Linked DNA regions of Homo sapiens: region 2 is linked to region 1. A link means that fine-mapping ties the variant in region 1 to the expression of a gene that starts in the linked region. Tissue or cell type: blood mononuclear cells. Region 1 holds a variant in brackets; the other region holds the start of a gene. All regions are shown on one strand. Distances are from middle to middle. Region 1 overlaps SPECC1 (sperm antigen with calponin homology and coiled-coil domains 1). Region 2 holds the start of SPECC1 (sperm antigen with calponin homology and coiled-coil domains 1).

Evidence for each region.
Region 2: SPECC1 starts here. The variant in region 1 is fine-mapped to the expression of SPECC1 in blood mononuclear cells (TOPMed, PIP above 0.99).

The regions. Positions count from the first base shown.
Region 1 is chr17:20,037,455-20,040,252 of GRCh38, forward strand. The region is part of intron 1 of SPECC1 (sperm antigen with calponin homology and coiled-coil domains 1); the gene reads left to right. Among named protein-coding and RNA genes, the nearest start is that of SPECC1, 29 kb to the left of the region's middle. The variant G/A (reference allele first, on the strand shown) is at 1,568.
Region 2 is chr17:20,007,692-20,010,489 of GRCh38, forward strand. SPECC1 (sperm antigen with calponin homology and coiled-coil domains 1) reads left to right here and starts at 1,668. Exons shown (of 15, transcript NM_001243439.2): 1 at 1,668-1,733. SPECC1-DT (SPECC1 divergent transcript) reads right to left here and starts at 1,569. Exons shown (of 1, transcript NR_186461.1): 1 at 364-1,569. RefSeq lists an enhancer at 470-1,037 and silencers at 1,470-2,139, 2,160-2,339.

The DNA of each region.
Region 1 (2,798 bases):
TTTCTTTTTTTATACTGCCCTTGTCCAGTGCTTCTTTTTTTTTTTTTTCTGACTGTTCCTGCAGAGCAGAGCTACCCATAGGCAGTGTGTCAAGAGTAGCTGTCCTTATACAGTTCTAGTATCAGAGTAACACCCACTTCATAAAATGAACTGGGAGATGTTCCCTTCTCTTCAGTTTTCTCAAAGATGCTATGTAGAGTTGGTGGTAATTCTTCATTAAACATTTGGTAGAATTCTTCAGTGAAACCATCTGGGCCCAGATATTTGCTTCTTGAGAGTTAAAAACATTTTTTAAATCCTTATTCTTCAAACAAAGTTCTATTTTTCTGAAGATATTTTTCACAGTACATACATCTCTTTAGCTGCAAAATAATTTGTCGTTTTTATTTGTTAAGGAAGGGTATAATTACCTTATCTAATATTTATAAAATATTAAGTTTAATGTTTCTGTTTTAAGAGTGTTAAAATTACAAATTCAATTTTCTCAGTAGTTATCAGGCTATCCCAATTATCTATTTCATATTGGGTGAGTTGTGGTAATTTGTGTTTTTTCAGTAATTAGTCCATTTCATCTACATTGTCAAATTTATAATGTGTAGAGTTGTTTCTAATTATGCTTTCATTCTAATAACTGGTAATCCGTGTCTTCTTTCTTTTTTGTTTGTTAGCCTTGCTAGAGGTTTGTCAATTTTATTAATCTTTCGAAGAATCAGTACTTTGTTTCACTGATTTTCTTTATTGTGTTTCTGTTTTCAATTTTACTGATTTATTTTTATATTTTCTTTCTTTTGCTTGCTTTGGGTTTATTTTGCTCTTCATCTTCTGTGTTCTTGAGATGGGAGTGGAGACTATTGATTTGAAACTTTTTCTCTTTTCTAATGTAAACATTTAGTGTTATAAATTTCCCTCTCAGCATTGCTTTAACTATGTCCCACAAATTTTGATATTCTTTTTTTTTTTTTTTTTTTTGAGGCAGTCTCTGTCGCCCAGGCTGGCGTGCAGTGGCACAATCTTGGCTCACTGCAACCTCTGCTGCCTGTGTTCAAGCGATTCTCCTACCTCAGCCTCCCAAGTAGCTGGGACCACAGGCTCCCGCCACTGCGCTTGGCTACTTTTTGTAGTTTTTTAGTTGAGACGGGGTTTCACCATCTTGGCCAGGCTGGTCTCGAACTCCTGATCTTGTGATCCACCAGCCTCGGCCTCCCAAAGTGCTGGGATCACAGGCGTGAGCCACCGCACCCAGCCATATTCATTTTTAGTCAGTTTATTTCCCTTAAGAAATTTTTAAAAATACATTAAACAATAAAAATGAATATCAGAAATGAATATCTTTGACCCACGGATGATTTTAGAAATGTGCTGTCCAGTTTTCAAGTATTTGGAGGCTTTTCTCGTTATCCTCCAGTTACCTCTTTCTAGTTTGATTCCAGTAGAGCACACTCTGTATGACTTCTATTCTTTGAAATGTGTTAAGTTTTTAAAAAGCGTTAGATATAATCCACATACCATATGTTTCACCCACTTAAAACGTACAATTCAATGGCCTTTTTTATATTTGTAGAGTTGC[G/A]CCAACATCACCACAATCAATTTTGGAACATTTTCATTATCCCAAAAAGAAATCCTACACTCTTTAACTGTCACCTTCTCCCTCCCCATGCAGCTCTTCCACTGTCCATCCAAGCCTTCGGCAATCACTAGTGAGCTTTGTTTTATGGCCCAGGGTAGGGTCTAAGGATATGTTCAGTGAATACTTGAAAAGAATGTTTATTTTGCTATTGTTGGGTAGAGTGTTCCGTAAATGTCTATTAGATCCTGTTGTTCAGTGGTGTTAAGTTCTTCTCAACTCCATGCTGATTTTTTTGTCTAGTTGTTCTATCAGTTGTTAAGAGAGGGTGTTGAATCTCCAAGCAGAATGATTGATTTGCCTGCTTTTCTTTCAGGATCTTTTCTTGATCCTTTTATTCCTGTCTCTTGAAATTTTCTTTTCTCTGAAGTCTATTTTATGTTATTAATATAGCCACTCCTTTCTTTTGATTAATGTTTTCATGATATATTTTATTCTTTTAATTTCAACCAACATATGTTGGTATATTTAAAGCAGGTTTCTTTTTTGTTTTTCAACTGAGGTGGAGTCTCACTCTGTCGTTCAGGCTGGAGTGGCGCAATCTTGGCCCACTGCTACCTCTGCTGCCCGGGTTCAAGCAGTTCTTGTGTCGCAGCCTCCTGAGTAGTTGGGACTACAGGCGTGTGCCACCATGCCTGGCTAATTTTTTTGTATTTTTAGTAGAGATGGGGTATTACCATGTTGTCCAGGCTGGTCTGGAACTCCTGACCTCAGGTGATCCACCCGCCTTGGCCTCCCGAAGTGCTGGGATTACAAGTGTGAGTCACTGCACTCAGCCCAAAGCAGGTTTCTTATAGCTATGTTTTTAAATTAACTCTGCTATCTCTGTCTTTTAATTGATATAATTAGATCATTTACATTTATGTAATTATTGATAAGTTAGGGCTTAAGTCTACCATTTTATTTATGTTTTTAAAAAATTTAGTTTGTCCTCCTCTTTTTTTCTCTTTTTGTCTTGTCTTCCTGTAGAGTATTTGAATATTTTTTAGAATTCCATTTCAATTTATCTAAATTGTTTTTGGTTATTATCTCTTTGTATAGTGTTGTTAGTGGTTGCTGTATTACATTATATGTATATATATATATACACACACATATACACACATATATTTATATATACTTACGTGTGTGTGTGTATGTAACTTTTCACAGTGTTGTCATTTTACCACTTCAA
Region 2 (2,798 bases), 30 kb before region 1:
ATTTTTAACTGGGAAATGATCAAACCTCAAAGAATAGATAATTTTAATGCTCCTTAAATTGTTCAGAGTAAAAGGAAAAAGCAAACATGCCCATTTTTTTTTCTTTTTTTTTTTTTGTAGAGATGGGGGGGTCTCACTGTGTTTCCTAGACTGGTCTCGAACTTCTGGCCTCAAGCACTCCTCCTGCCTCGGTTCCAAATTTTTTATGATGTGAGCATAACATTGATTCTGAAACCAAACAACATTAGACATTCAAAAAGAAAATTATTGCCCATCTCATTTTTGCATATCAATGCAAAGCCTGTAAATAAAATATTAGCAAACAGAATCAAGCAGTATATTTAAAAAAAAAAGACAAGTTTATTGCAGGGATAAACTGGGTTTTTATTAGGAATTTATTATAACTAGGACTCATTACTTCAATATGAGGAAATCAGCTGTCACCCGGTTTGCTCGTCCTTACAGACATCTCCCTCCTCTTCCTCTCTTCCTTTCCAGTGAAAATGTCTTCAAGTTTCCTCTACCAAACCAAAACTTCACCCCACTTCTTTTATTCTTTCCTCCTCTCTTCTCAGAACAAAGGGGTTGTTGCTGACCAGCCCAGGGTTTCTTATTTGGGGCCGGATCATTCTTCCTTGTGGGGCAGTCCTGTCCTTCAGGTAGGATGTTGAGGAGCACCCTCGTGTCTACCCACTTAGGCAACAGTAGCAACTCCCGCATCATGACAACCAAAAATGTCTCCAGACCTCCCCAAATGTACGCGGGGCGGCGAGGAGGGGCAACACCGGCCCTGGTCGAGAACCGCTAGCCTAGGCTCGCCCCTCTACCTGGGCGCCACAACTTGCCAGGGTTGGTTATTCTCCCTGGATCCTTTCCTTCCTCCTCATTTGAGCTTCACGCCCTCAAGTATGACCAAAGGTTCTGTCATTCCACTCCTGCAGTTTTCATTAAGGTCTTAGGCCACTTCCATGTCAAGAAACACAGTGGCTCTTTCTAACCCCTGGCCATGAGGCACCCCTGGAGGAGGAGCCGTGAGGGTAGGGAAGATGCTGAGGGGGATGTTGACCTTGCCGACTTCCAGGCGCCTCCGCTGCATCCCGGAGGAGGCGTTGGGCGGTGAGGGTGCAGCGGGGGGGCGGGCCCCGCAGGATGAGGTGTCCGTGTGCGGCTAGCGCCACAGGCAAGACCGGGCTCCTTGCGGGGCGGAGGTGAGGCCGTGAGCATAGCTCTCAAACTGGAGGGCGCCTCAGAATCACTTGACGGGCTTGCGAGAATGTGGACTGCTGGGCCCCACCTTCATGGTTTTAGTGCAGGAAAAACCGAATAGGCTGGGTGGGACGGAGAATCTGCATTTTCTCAAGTTCCCAGATGAGGCTGAAGCTGCTGGTCCGGGCACCACCCTTAGAAAACCTCCAGTGTAGAGTGCGGAAATGGGGTCCACATCTGGCTTGGGACGCCCAAACATCGATTATGTGCGACCAGAGGATGAGCAGATAGGGAGATGAGACACTGAGAGCTGGGAGAGAGGGGGCCCCCGGCCGCCGGCTGAAGGAGGACGGCGCAGGCGGCGGTCCGGGTACTACATCTCCCAGCGAGCCCCGCGCGGCTCGCGCTCGCCCCCTGGCGGCGATGGCTGGAGGCGCCGGCGGAGCGCGGGTCCCTCTCCTGAGCATCAGTGAGCGCCCGGAGCCGTGGCCGCTGGGGGTTGCGGCGGCGCTGAGCCAGCGGGGCCGGTGAGTACTAGCCGCGCCGCCAGCCCGCCCGCCGGCCGGCTCTTTGCGCCTCAGCCGCGTGGTCTGAAGGGATGGGCGGGCGAGCGCGGGGGTCCGGCAGTCCGTCGTGGGGGCACGGGACTGCCTTTCTGGGAAGGCGTGCTGCGTCTTCGCCGCGGGGGCCCCGGTCCCCTCGTCGCGTGTCCTGTCCCCAGCCCAGGAGGGACGTCCTGGCCTGTCCTGCCCGGCCCGGAGCGGTGGGACCGGTGCCGCAGGTGGCAGCGGCAGGTGGCCGCCTCCTCCCCTCCGGGCCCGAGGGTTGTCGCAGGGACCCGGGACTGAGAGCCAGGTGGCTCCCGACAGCTGCGGCCCTGGAGGCGACCCCAGCCCTCGCCGCAGTGGGACAGGTGCGCGGGCACGCCCGGCCCCGGCTCCTGGGTCTCGGGAGCCTCCCGCACCCTCCCTGTTGTGCCTTGGGGGTGCTGCGTGGTGCAGAGGACCGAGAAGCCCTTCGCCCTCGGCGTCCGCCGCGCTCCCGCCCCTTCCTGGCCGGGGTGACAGGGGAAGGGCTAGGGCTGCGCATCCCGGGTCAGCTGGGGCGCCGCGGCGCAGTGCACCTGGAAGGCCCGGGGGCAGCGCGCGGTGCCCGTGGGTTTCCCGGTGGTGCGGACCTGCGGGCGTGCGGAAGTAACGACCTCCTTCCCCAGTGCCCATGCAAGGAAATTAGTGTTATGTGCTTGCTTTTTTTTTTTTTTTTTCCTAAGGAAGTTTGACTCTGAATATCTTATTTTGCTGGAGCTCCATTTGCCAGCACGTAAGTTTATGTAATAAGCGGCATACAGTTCGGAAAAAAATTTTCCTGTGAAAGTGCTCTTCCTTGCCCTCTGCAGGAAGAATTACGCCGAGCTGGTTGGCAGGCTTATCCACCAGCAACTGTAGGAGCTGCAGGCAGCAGATAAAGTGTTTTTTGAGTAAGGGCACAAGTCAGCCCTTCAGGACAATTTTTGTTTTTGGAAGATTCTGTTATCCAGTTCCAAACACCGTGTTATTTCAGTGTTGAAGATGGGGGAGGAGGGAGGAGCACAG